Linked DNA regions of Homo sapiens: region 2 is linked to region 1. Evidence: fine-mapped expression QTL. A gene starts in region 1. The other region holds a variant in brackets. All regions are shown on one strand. Distances are from middle to middle.

What was found.
Region 2: its variant is fine-mapped to the expression of CLEC12A in whole blood (INTERVAL, PIP 0.98).

Annotation. Positions count from the first base shown.
Region 1 is chr12:9,968,749-9,974,292 of GRCh38, forward strand. CLEC12A (C-type lectin domain family 12 member A) reads left to right here and starts at 2,661. Exons shown (of 6, transcript NM_138337.6): 1 at 2,661-2,939. The coding sequence starts at 2,849.
Region 2 is chr12:9,943,258-9,948,285 of GRCh38, forward strand. It overlaps LINC02470 (long intergenic non-protein coding RNA 2470), which reads right to left and starts at 238. Exons shown (of 5, transcript NR_104634.2): 1 at 1-238. CLEC12A-AS1 (CLEC12A antisense RNA 1) reads right to left here. Exons shown (of 3, transcript NR_135047.1): 3 at 4,880-5,028. The variant G/GATAT (reference allele first, on the strand shown) is at 2,050.

The DNA.
Region 1 (5,544 bases):
ATATTGGAAGACATCTGTAATTATATTTGCAGATTGTCTCTTAGTATTCAACTAGAATGAAAATTGATATAGGTTGATTTCATATCTTGTCTATTGCAAATAGTGCTGCAATAAACATGGGAGTGCAGGTATCTATAGTATATATACACAATGGAATATTATTTGGCCATAGAAGGAAATGAAATCCTGTCATTTGCAGAAACAGGAGTGGAACTGAAGGTCATTATGTTAACTGAAATAAGCCAGGCACAGAAAGACAAATATCACATGTTTCCACTCATATGTGAGAGCTAAAAGAATGAATCTCATGGAAGCAGAGAGTAGAATTGTGGTTACCAGAGGCTTAGAAAGGGGTGGTGGGGGATAAAGATAAGTTGGTTGGGTACAAAAATAAAATTAGATAGAAGGAACAAATTCTAGTATTTGATAGTACAGTGGGAAAACTATAGTTGACAATAATTTATTGTATATTTCAAAATAGCTAAAAGAGAAGAAATGTACTATTCCCAACAGAAGGAAAAGGTAAGTGTTTGACGGAATGAATATTCTTATTACCCTGATTTGGTCATTACACATTGTATACAGGTTTCAAAATATCACATGTACCTCCAAAATACATACAACTATTTTGTATCAATAACAAAATTTTTAAAAAACTGATATAGGCTGTGAAGGGCAAACCATGTAGTCATCTCAGAGCTCAGCTTATTCTTGTGGATATAAATGTTTTAGCTGGCTCTAAACCAAGGATTTTGTATGAAGTAATACTTATTCAAATATTTTCAACAAAATAGAGTACCTTGCAAACAGGACTTTGAGATTTTTCATTTGTTTCCCTTTACAGTTCGTCATATACGCTTCATCTTCTAGTGTTGATTGATGAAACAACGTTCCACATGAGACAGCAGAGCAATAGAACACAGAACAGGACTCTGCCTGTGTGGTGGCCGGTTTCCATCCTTTCACAAACAAAGAGATATTTATAAACAAATATTTATATGCAAATATTTGATCCACCTAGGAAAAATAGAGGGCTACTCTTTCCCACCAGGAGAGGCCTTATAGCCTGTGCACATATTTGAACAAGGCAACCAGAGACTTTGATGGTCTCAACTCTACCACTCACCAACTGTGTGATGTTGGATACAAACTTAACCACTTTGCAACTCACTTCCGCATCTGTAAAATAAGGGTGATAATAATAGCACCTGGTTTAGAGAGTTGTAAAGATAAAAGCAACATTAGTAAAGTACTTAGGATGAAGTAATCATGTTTTGAATATATTTTCCTTTAAATGTGGCTGCCAATATTTTCATGGTAATATTTTCAAATGTATTCAATAGCTTTTTCTTTATCAGGAGAAAATCAGTTGTTTTAATTAAATTGACATTGAATTTTTGATACATTTAGGAGAATTTAGTTTCTTTTTATACAGTATTGACGCTTCTAATCCCACAGCATGTTTTTCTATTTTTTTCTTTTCTTCAATAGTTTTAAAATTTTTTTGTTCATTTTGGTTATGCAAATATCTAGTTAATTTCTATCTGTAATATTTTCCTATTTATTTTTAGTAGCTCTTATAAAGGGAGCATTTTGTTTTTCCTGTCTATCCTGACATAATAAAGCAATTAGTTTTTAATTGATTTTTAAAAATATTTATGCATTCTCTTTCATATGTATAATAATAATACCTAACCATTTTATGATTTACATGTGGCAATGTCAAGAAGAATTTTAAAGTAAGATTTACTAACGAATATTAGAGAACATGCTCAAAAACAGTCCTCTCCACCCCCTCACTTCCACTTGCATTCTTGATCAAGAAGTGAAATAAAAAATACTAAGACTATTGAGTCAAACTAATAAGACACAAATCTGGACTTTGGAGACTCATTTCCCTCCCACTTTTGATAGCTTAGCTGAGGAGGAGATCAAATGGTTGAGTCAGTCTGTAGAGAGATAGCAAGGCTGATTATAGTTTTCCTGGCCTGCAAAGCTGTTTCCAGAGCCCTCAGTATACAGACCTTGGCCATCAGTATGCATACTCTCTGGTGTGGTTTCTGGGCATCAGATCCCTTAATATATAGGTTGGCGCTAAAGTAATTTTGTAAACTTTTAATGGCAAAAACCACAATTACTTTTGCTTTTAATGGCAAAAACCAGAATTACTTTAGCACCAACCTATATATTGTTATTTAGAGAAACTAGGCATTCCCTACCTCTCTTAGGCAAACCTATAGCTATGTAACATGGCAACGGAATGACACTAACTGTCTCATTCTCCTTGGGAGTGCTCTCTGTATGTTCAGTCTCCCAGTGAAGAGAACCCTTCTATCAGGACCTTCATCATCATACAAAAGGAATATCTATGCCAGGCCACAGCTGCAGATTAGTGAGTGTCTGAGAACTGCATCTTTTCTGTTATTTTTCTGCTTGAAAGTTTTTCACCAATAAATCCTACACTATGTCTGCACCATGTGGTGCTAGTTATTTGTGTTCTCTTGCATGACACTGATGATGTTATCCAAACACAATTTCAAAAACTACTTTCTGTAGTTGGTAAATATATAGAAATTGAGAAAAAGGAAGAAATATGAGGAAGAAAGATGTTATCTGTTGCAACAGTTCAATGTTCTTAACTGAAGCCACAGATGAGATTTGGCTCATTTGCAGACATATGGGTGATTGGTACAGTAGGTTTATAAACAGAAGTTTAAACTTGTAAGCTTAAGCTTCCGTTTATAAACAGAAGTTTAAAATTATAGGTCCTGTTTAACATTCAGCTCTGTTAACTCACTCATCTTTTTGTGTTTTTACACTTTGTCAAGATTTCTTTACATATTCATCAATGTCTGAAGAAGTTACTTATGCAGATCTTCAATTCCAGAACTCCAGTGAGATGGAAAAAATCCCAGAAATTGGCAAATTTGGGGAAAAAGGTAAGATTTTGAGTTATGGATGTGTTGTAAGTTTGTATAATAGAAGTGGTTATAGACTTGCATCTTCAATATTAGTGATATAGTTACTATTCAACTTAAATTTTCAATTAAGTCTCTTATGTTTAAGCAAAGGAACAAAAAGTGTATGAACAAAATGATTAGAAAAAAGGGTTTTGTAAAAACACTTATCTCTGCATTGAATAATCAATCTTTTACATTTTTGAAATTTTTTATTATCACACTCAATATAATTGGGACAGAATTTTTCAAATGATTGGGTTGTATGAAGATTTTATTTCTTTATGAGATGAAGCCATGGAAAAAGAAACATGTTCAGGAAAGTCATGATTTCATATGTGTGTGTGTGTGTGTGTTTTTTTTTTTATAAGAAAATGCTTTGTGTCAGACAGAGAGACCTTTATAGGATTTCATTTGACTATCTACCAAACTAAGCATAAATCACCCTAAAATTTCTCCTACTTCTTTTGGAGATTTTTTACTAACTTACTAAAAAATAAAACATGTTAAGTTAAATGAAATGAATCATTAAGGAATAAAGGAAGAAAAGAGGTAAAGAAATATCAGAAGACATAATATATTCATAATATTCAAAACCACATTATATCAAGTAACTTTGTATTTTTCAATTCAAATTAAAATCATGAAATAAGTGGTCCATCTGTGTTGACTTTCACTTAAACAAAACTACTCTTCATCTTACTCAGAATCCTATAGTTTTCCTATTATGTATGGTTCTTGCCTTCTGGCTCCTAGCCTTTTGGGAGTGAAATCTGCCCTAGCGAATCCATAGTTTAAATCAGTGTATTTGAGTTAAAAATAACTTAAACAGTGATAGTGGAGAACACAAAGAAGGGTGATAGAAACAGAAAAATAAGGAGAGAAGAGTGCCAAAATTCTCACATATTATTTAAGTTGTTGTCCTCTCTCCTCTCCCCACACAGAATATAACATCTTTAATATTCTAGCATTGCTATAAACAGAAATTTCACTGTTACATCTTGGATCCATTTATGATGAGCATTGTAAATCTTGAGAAAGGATAGCAGATTAATTCTGTTGGCTTCTTTTTTAATACTGAAATTTTTTTTTAGAAAGAAGAAGGGTTTAAGAATTTTACAATATTTTCTGTCTTTATTTCCTTGTTTATATTTCTTCTTTTATACACTGAAAGAGAATGGGCATATCATGAGCCTAATATTACCAACAATTGCCCTTTACTTGTCCTCTCACACCCTTTCCCACCTCTTTTCCTGCCAATCCACCTTAAGTTCCCACCACAAGAATTCCCTGAATTCACGGAAATATTGAATCCATGTCTTCTTCATGTTCTTAATCTCATCTAATTTTCTCATTATCGAGCTTAGAATCTACATTATGTAATATAACATTGTATTATGTAATGTCTACTCTTAGTCTCTTACACTTCTCCTCTTCAATGTGTGTTAATTTTTCCTTAAAAACTCCAGCTCTGGCTAGGTGCAGTGGCTCATACCCATAGTCCTAGCACTTTGAGAGGCCAAGATGGGAGGATTATTTGAGGCCAGAAGTTTGAGACCAGCCTGGGGAAAGTAGAGATATGCCATGTCTATAAAAAAAAAATTTTTTTAATTAACTGGGCACCCATAGTCTCAGCTGCTTGGGAGGCTGAGGAAAGAGGATTACTTGAGTCCAGGAGTTGGAGGCTCTAGTAAGCTAAGATCAGGCGAGTGTACTCCAGTCTGGGTGACACAGCAAGATCCTGCCTCAAACAAATCAAAACAAAACAAGACAAAAACCCCAAAAACAAACAAATAAAAACAACTCCAGTTCTGGTTAAACCCGAATATCCACCCAGTCTGCCCCAGAGTTGAATATTGCTGGTGAAAAATACACAAATTTTCAACCCCAGTTACTCTCACCTTTCCTCTGGTAAGAAAAAAGCATCCATCTACACTTTTTTTTGTTGTTATTTAAATGTCTATCCTACCATGTCCTTACTGATACTCTGCTTTCCTTCCAGATAGTATTTACGATAAGTATGTACTTATGAAGGGACGGCTCCTCATTTTGCTCTGAATTTCAGTCCATGTGTCGTTTTCAAAGACAGACTTCCGTAATTTTTTCCTTTCTCTCCTGTGTCATTATTCTCTCTTCCTTCTCTGCTTTTCCTTTTTGGTGCACCAACATACTCTACTACTCACCAATATACTCTGCTACTCCTTTTATAACAAAACACAATCCTTGCTTGACCACTTAAGCCTTTCCATTATTATTTAACTTCTTTGTTTCCTTTCACAACTCAACTTTTGAAAGCATTTTCTTTGGCCACTGACTCTCAGTTCTTCACCTCTCATTCTGTTCTCAACCAACTCTATTAGGCTTCTGCCCCCTTGGTGCCATAGAGACTGAGCTTTAGGTCACTGATGTCCTGCCTGTTTCATCCCAATAGTCACATGTCTCTTCCATTACTTCACTTCCCTGCAGCATTGAAAAAGTTGAACAGTCCTCTAAATGCTTTCTTTGCACATCCCTCCTGACACATCCTCATGGCTTCTCCTGTCACCATGCCTGCCTCTCCTCATTCTTTGTTGATTCCTCCTCCTAG
Region 2 (5,028 bases), 26 kb before region 1:
TGCGGGTGAATTGCAAATTGCTAAGTATATTTGGTGAGTGCAAACCGCAGGAAACTGACGACCCGGTTTTTCTGAGGGGTGGTGCGGCAGCAAGACAGTAGGAGAAACAGCACAGCAACCTAGCATCCTCCACTCAGCCGCGCAGGTGGACTTGGGCCAGATGGCCCCCAGGGGCGTGTCATGTGCCTTCTCTGACGTTTGTACGAGGCAGGGGCAGCAACGGCAGCCGGGCATGCACCAACGGTGCCTCTGCCCCGGCAGCGATGACTCTACAGCCCATGATTTCCGCAGCCCACGATTGGCTGGGGCACAGCGATAAGAATTCAACCTAATGGGCACCTCACCTCCCACCTGCTTGGTACGCAGAGCAGAGAATGGGGAGTCCCATACCCTCCCTTTCCGGCTTCTTTATATTGTCTCCCTAAAAATCTCCGATTGGACACAGGTATATAACATAAATTGCCTGCACTGGAAAGTGTACACATTCTCTCACGCCACAAAGTGGATCTGCCCCCATTTTCTTGTTTTTAATAACTTTTTTCTGTTCTACATTTTTAACCACTGTGTTCTAAGTGTACCTGTGGAGTGTTTAGTAAAATGTGGGAAAACAAAGCCATTGTTTTTACATGTTTTCATAGGAACTAATGAAAGCTTGTTTCATATACAGGCAGTTTTTATTTTGCACTGTAGTGTGTGATAATAAAAATTACTGCACAAGCTGATATCACACCAAGCTATTTTAATAATAGGGAAAAGTATGATTTTTCCTTTATCCTCTTTTCCTGATTGAAAATTACTTTACTGTCACTCATAAACGTATAGGGAAATGTAAACAACAATAAAATTAATATTTTTAAAGTATGCTATAATTAAAACATTAAAAACACTGAGTTTCAAGTGTTTTGCTTAAAAGAAAATGAGTAGTGTGAATTGAGTACGTGCTGTTGTTGTTCTATCGCTTACAATATGGAGCCAGCATCTTTTAGATGCCTTCTCAAGCTTTTTTATTCCTAAATTTGGATAGACTTCCAATATACTATTCTTTGCACTTGAAATGTTAGGAAACACATTGAGAGTTCATTTGATGTGAACACTTTAGCTCGTATAACTTCCTCTGGGACCTCTTCATTCTTTTCATCACAACCACTTACCTTATTTTTGTCAATAAGTGTGCCTTTACTAAATTCCTCTGGTTGCATTATCTAGAGACTCTTCAAAAGGTGAATTATTAATAACCCTATCAACAGCTATTGCTTCTCTAACTTCATTTCTCTTCTATTTTATTTCCCCTTTCAGCGCCATCATTTTTTGCTGCACTTTGTGTCACTAACCAATTTCCTGTTTCAATTACCTTCCTCTTCTTGTCTTCCTGTTTCAAATTTCCTTTGGAATTTGTCATACAGTGACAAACCCATGTGACATTTACAAAATAATACAGAATAACTCTCCATCTTATTCTGTATTAACTGATAAAAGATGCATGGTGACCAATCAATCATTGACAGACTTGGAAAAAAGTGACATGGTTGGTCGTTAATCACAATACAAACATGTATATAGTGATTCGTGAACTGAAAAACTAGCATGGAAGTTTCTACTTTATACAATTACTTACAGTAAATATAATACAAATACAGATAAGTACGCTGAAAGAATTAAACTGTGCTGTTGGGGAGTTATTTAATTAAACTGTGAGAAGTGAAGTTTATGCATATTAGAACCACGCAAAGTAAAGTTTATACACACACCCTACTCCCCACAGACATTCTCTTTAAAATATACATATACGGCCGGGCACTGTGGCTCACGCCTGTAATCCCAGCACATTGGGAGGCTGAGGCAGGCAGAGCATCTGAAGTCAAGGAGTTTGAAACCAGTTTGGCCAACATGGTGAAACCCCGTCTCTACTAAAAATACAAAAATTAGCCTGGTGTGGTGGCAGACGCCTGTAATCCCAGCTACTCAGGAGGCTGAGGCAGGAGAATCGCTTGAACCCAGGAGGCGGAGGTTGTAGTGAGCCGGCGTCCCGCCATTGCACTCCAGCCTGGA[G/GATAT]ATATATATATATATATAAATTTTCATATATATATATAAATTTTCATATATATACACACACAAATACATATACAAACACATACATATGCATGTATAAGCATATATTGTATGTGTATAGACCTTATTCTATACATAAGAATTATTTATACTTATTTATGTAATGTATTCTTGTGACTTCAGTAATTAATTAGCACAGATTTCAAAGCTATAAATGGTAGAAATGTGGTATCTCACAGTTCTGGAGGCCAGAAGTCTGGAATAAAGAGGCTCTGAGGAAGAACCTGCTTCACACCTCTCTTCCAGCTTCTGGTGGCTGCTGGCAATCCTTAGTGATCCTTACCATGAAGTTGCACCATGCCAGTCTCTGCCTCTATCTTCTTAATGAGTGGAAAATAGTTCCTAGAATTCAACTAGAAGATTTCTCTCATTTTTCATTTACCTTGACAGACCATATATTCCTTCTTAAGATGATAACTTTCAAGAGGAATAGAAACAGTATGACTGGCTTAGATTAAATTCAACCAAATCATTAGAGATAAGATCAACCTCTCCCTCATAGAAGCAAGTATATATATGGGGGCGGGGGGATTGTTTTCTTCTTACAATACTCTTAATATTTCACCTCCTACACCAGATGTGTAGGGAGGGGGTTTCTCCTCAAATCAATAAATTATCTAGGGCAGGGGGCCCCAACCCTCGGGCCATGGGCCAGTACCGGTGCATGGCCTTTCAGGAACGGTCCATGGCCTTTCAGGAACAGTCCATGGCCTGTTAGGAATGGGGTTGCACAGCAGGAGGTGAGCAGCAGGCAAGAGAGAGCAGCTTCATCTGTATTTACAGCTGCTTCCCATCACTTGCATTACTGCCTGAGCTCCACCTCCTGTCAGATCAGCTGCTCATTAGATTCTCATAGGAGTGCAAACCCTACTGTGAACTGTGAATGCAAGGGATCTAAGTTGCATGCTCCTTAGGAGAATCTAATGCCTGATGATCTGTCACTGTCTCCCATCATCCCCAGATGAGACCGTCTAGTTGCACGAAAACAAGCTCAGCGTTCCCACTGATTCTACATTATGGTGAGTTGTGTAAGTATTTTATTATATATTACAATGTAATAATACTAGAAATAAAGTGAACAAAAAATGTAATGCACTTGAATCATCTTGAAACCATCTTCCCCCACCCCAGGGTCTGTAGAAAAATTATCTTCCCTGAAATCGGTCCCTGGTGCCCTATTGGGGCAGCAGTTGGGGACTGCTGCTCTAGGGGACACCCACTGTATGTCCTATAATTCAATTCAATTCTGACAGTATCCACCTGGAGTTAGCATCAAATTCCACAGATCAAGGGCTCACTCCATCAAGACTGCCCTCCACTTCAGATGCCAGTGTCAAGTCTGGGCCTCTGGAACTGCTGACCAACCAGCTACAGATTGAGGGTTCCCTCGACCCCTCATCACACTTGATTAATTTGATAGAGAGGCTCAGAGAACTTGGAGAAACACTCAATGTTTACCAGTTTATGATATTAATAAAGGGTACACATGAACATCCAGATAAAAAGATAGTTGGGGGAGGTCTGAGAGGGTCCAGAGTGCAGGAGCTTCTGTCCCTATAAAGTTGGGGTGCATCATCCTCGTGGCACATAAGTGTGTTTGTCCACCTGGGAGTTCTTGTAACCCTGTATTTTTGGGACTTTTATGGAGGTTTCATCATGTAGACATGATTGATTACTCTTTTTCCAGCCCCTTTCCCATCTGTGACTAATGTGGGGTAGGAGTGAAATGTCTAAGCTTCTAACCATGTCTTGGTCTTTCTGGCAACCAGCCTTCATTTAAGAGCCTACCAAGAGTCACCTCATTAGAACCAGAGATATTCCTATTGCCCAGAACATTCCAAGGGATTTAGGAGCTCTGTGTCAGATGCTCCTATCACTCTGGCAATTACAAAGGTGTTAGGCACTCTGTGTTAGGAACCAAGGTTAAAAACCAAATAATAAAAGATGTCCCTAAGCACCCCTACTGTTCAGGAAATTCCATTTTTAGAAGCTCTGCACAGGAACTAGGGACAGATATATAGATATAGATTATATAGATATAGACAATTTCATACACACTCGCTCTCCACTGACAAAATTAGGATTCTACCTGAAATATAGAAGAAGAGAATGGATTTGGATACATAACCAAAAACAGTCTTATTGCCAAAATATATATATTTTTTGAGATGGATTCTCACTCTGTTGCCTGGGCTGGAGTACAGTGGTGTGATCTCTGCTCACTGCAACCTCGGCCTCATGGATTCAAGCGATTCTCCTGCCTCAGCCTCCTGAGTAGCTGGGATAACAGGCGCCCACCACTACGCCCAGCTAATTTCTTGTGTTTTTAGTAAAGATGGGGTTTCACCATGTTGTCCAGGCTGGTCTCGAACCCCTGACCTCATGATCCACCAGCCTCAGCATCCCAAAGTGCTGGGATTACAGGTGTGAGCCACCGTGCCTGGCCACCAAAATATTTTTTTAAGAGAGTGAGTGTGTGTGTGTGTGTGTGTGTGTGTGTGTGGAGGTTGTTTACTCATTGCAAGATATAAAAAAAGGAAGTGGTACCAATACCACCCATATAGGCAAAATGGACTACATTAAAATTTAAAACTTCTGTGCATCGAAGAGCATAATCCACAGAGTGAAATGACAACCTACAAAGTGGGAGAAAATGTTTGGAAATCACATATCTCATAAGGAATTAGAATCCACAATATATCACAAATTCCTATAGGGCAGCAGAAAACAAACAAATGAAAGAACAAATAACTTGATTTAAAACTGGTCAAATGACTTGAATAGATACTTCTTCATAAAACATAAACAAATGTCCAGCAAACATATGAAAAGACATTCAATATCACTAATCATTTGAGAAATTAAAATCAAAACTATATTAAGAGATCACCTCACATCCATTAAGATGGCTCCTGTGGAAAA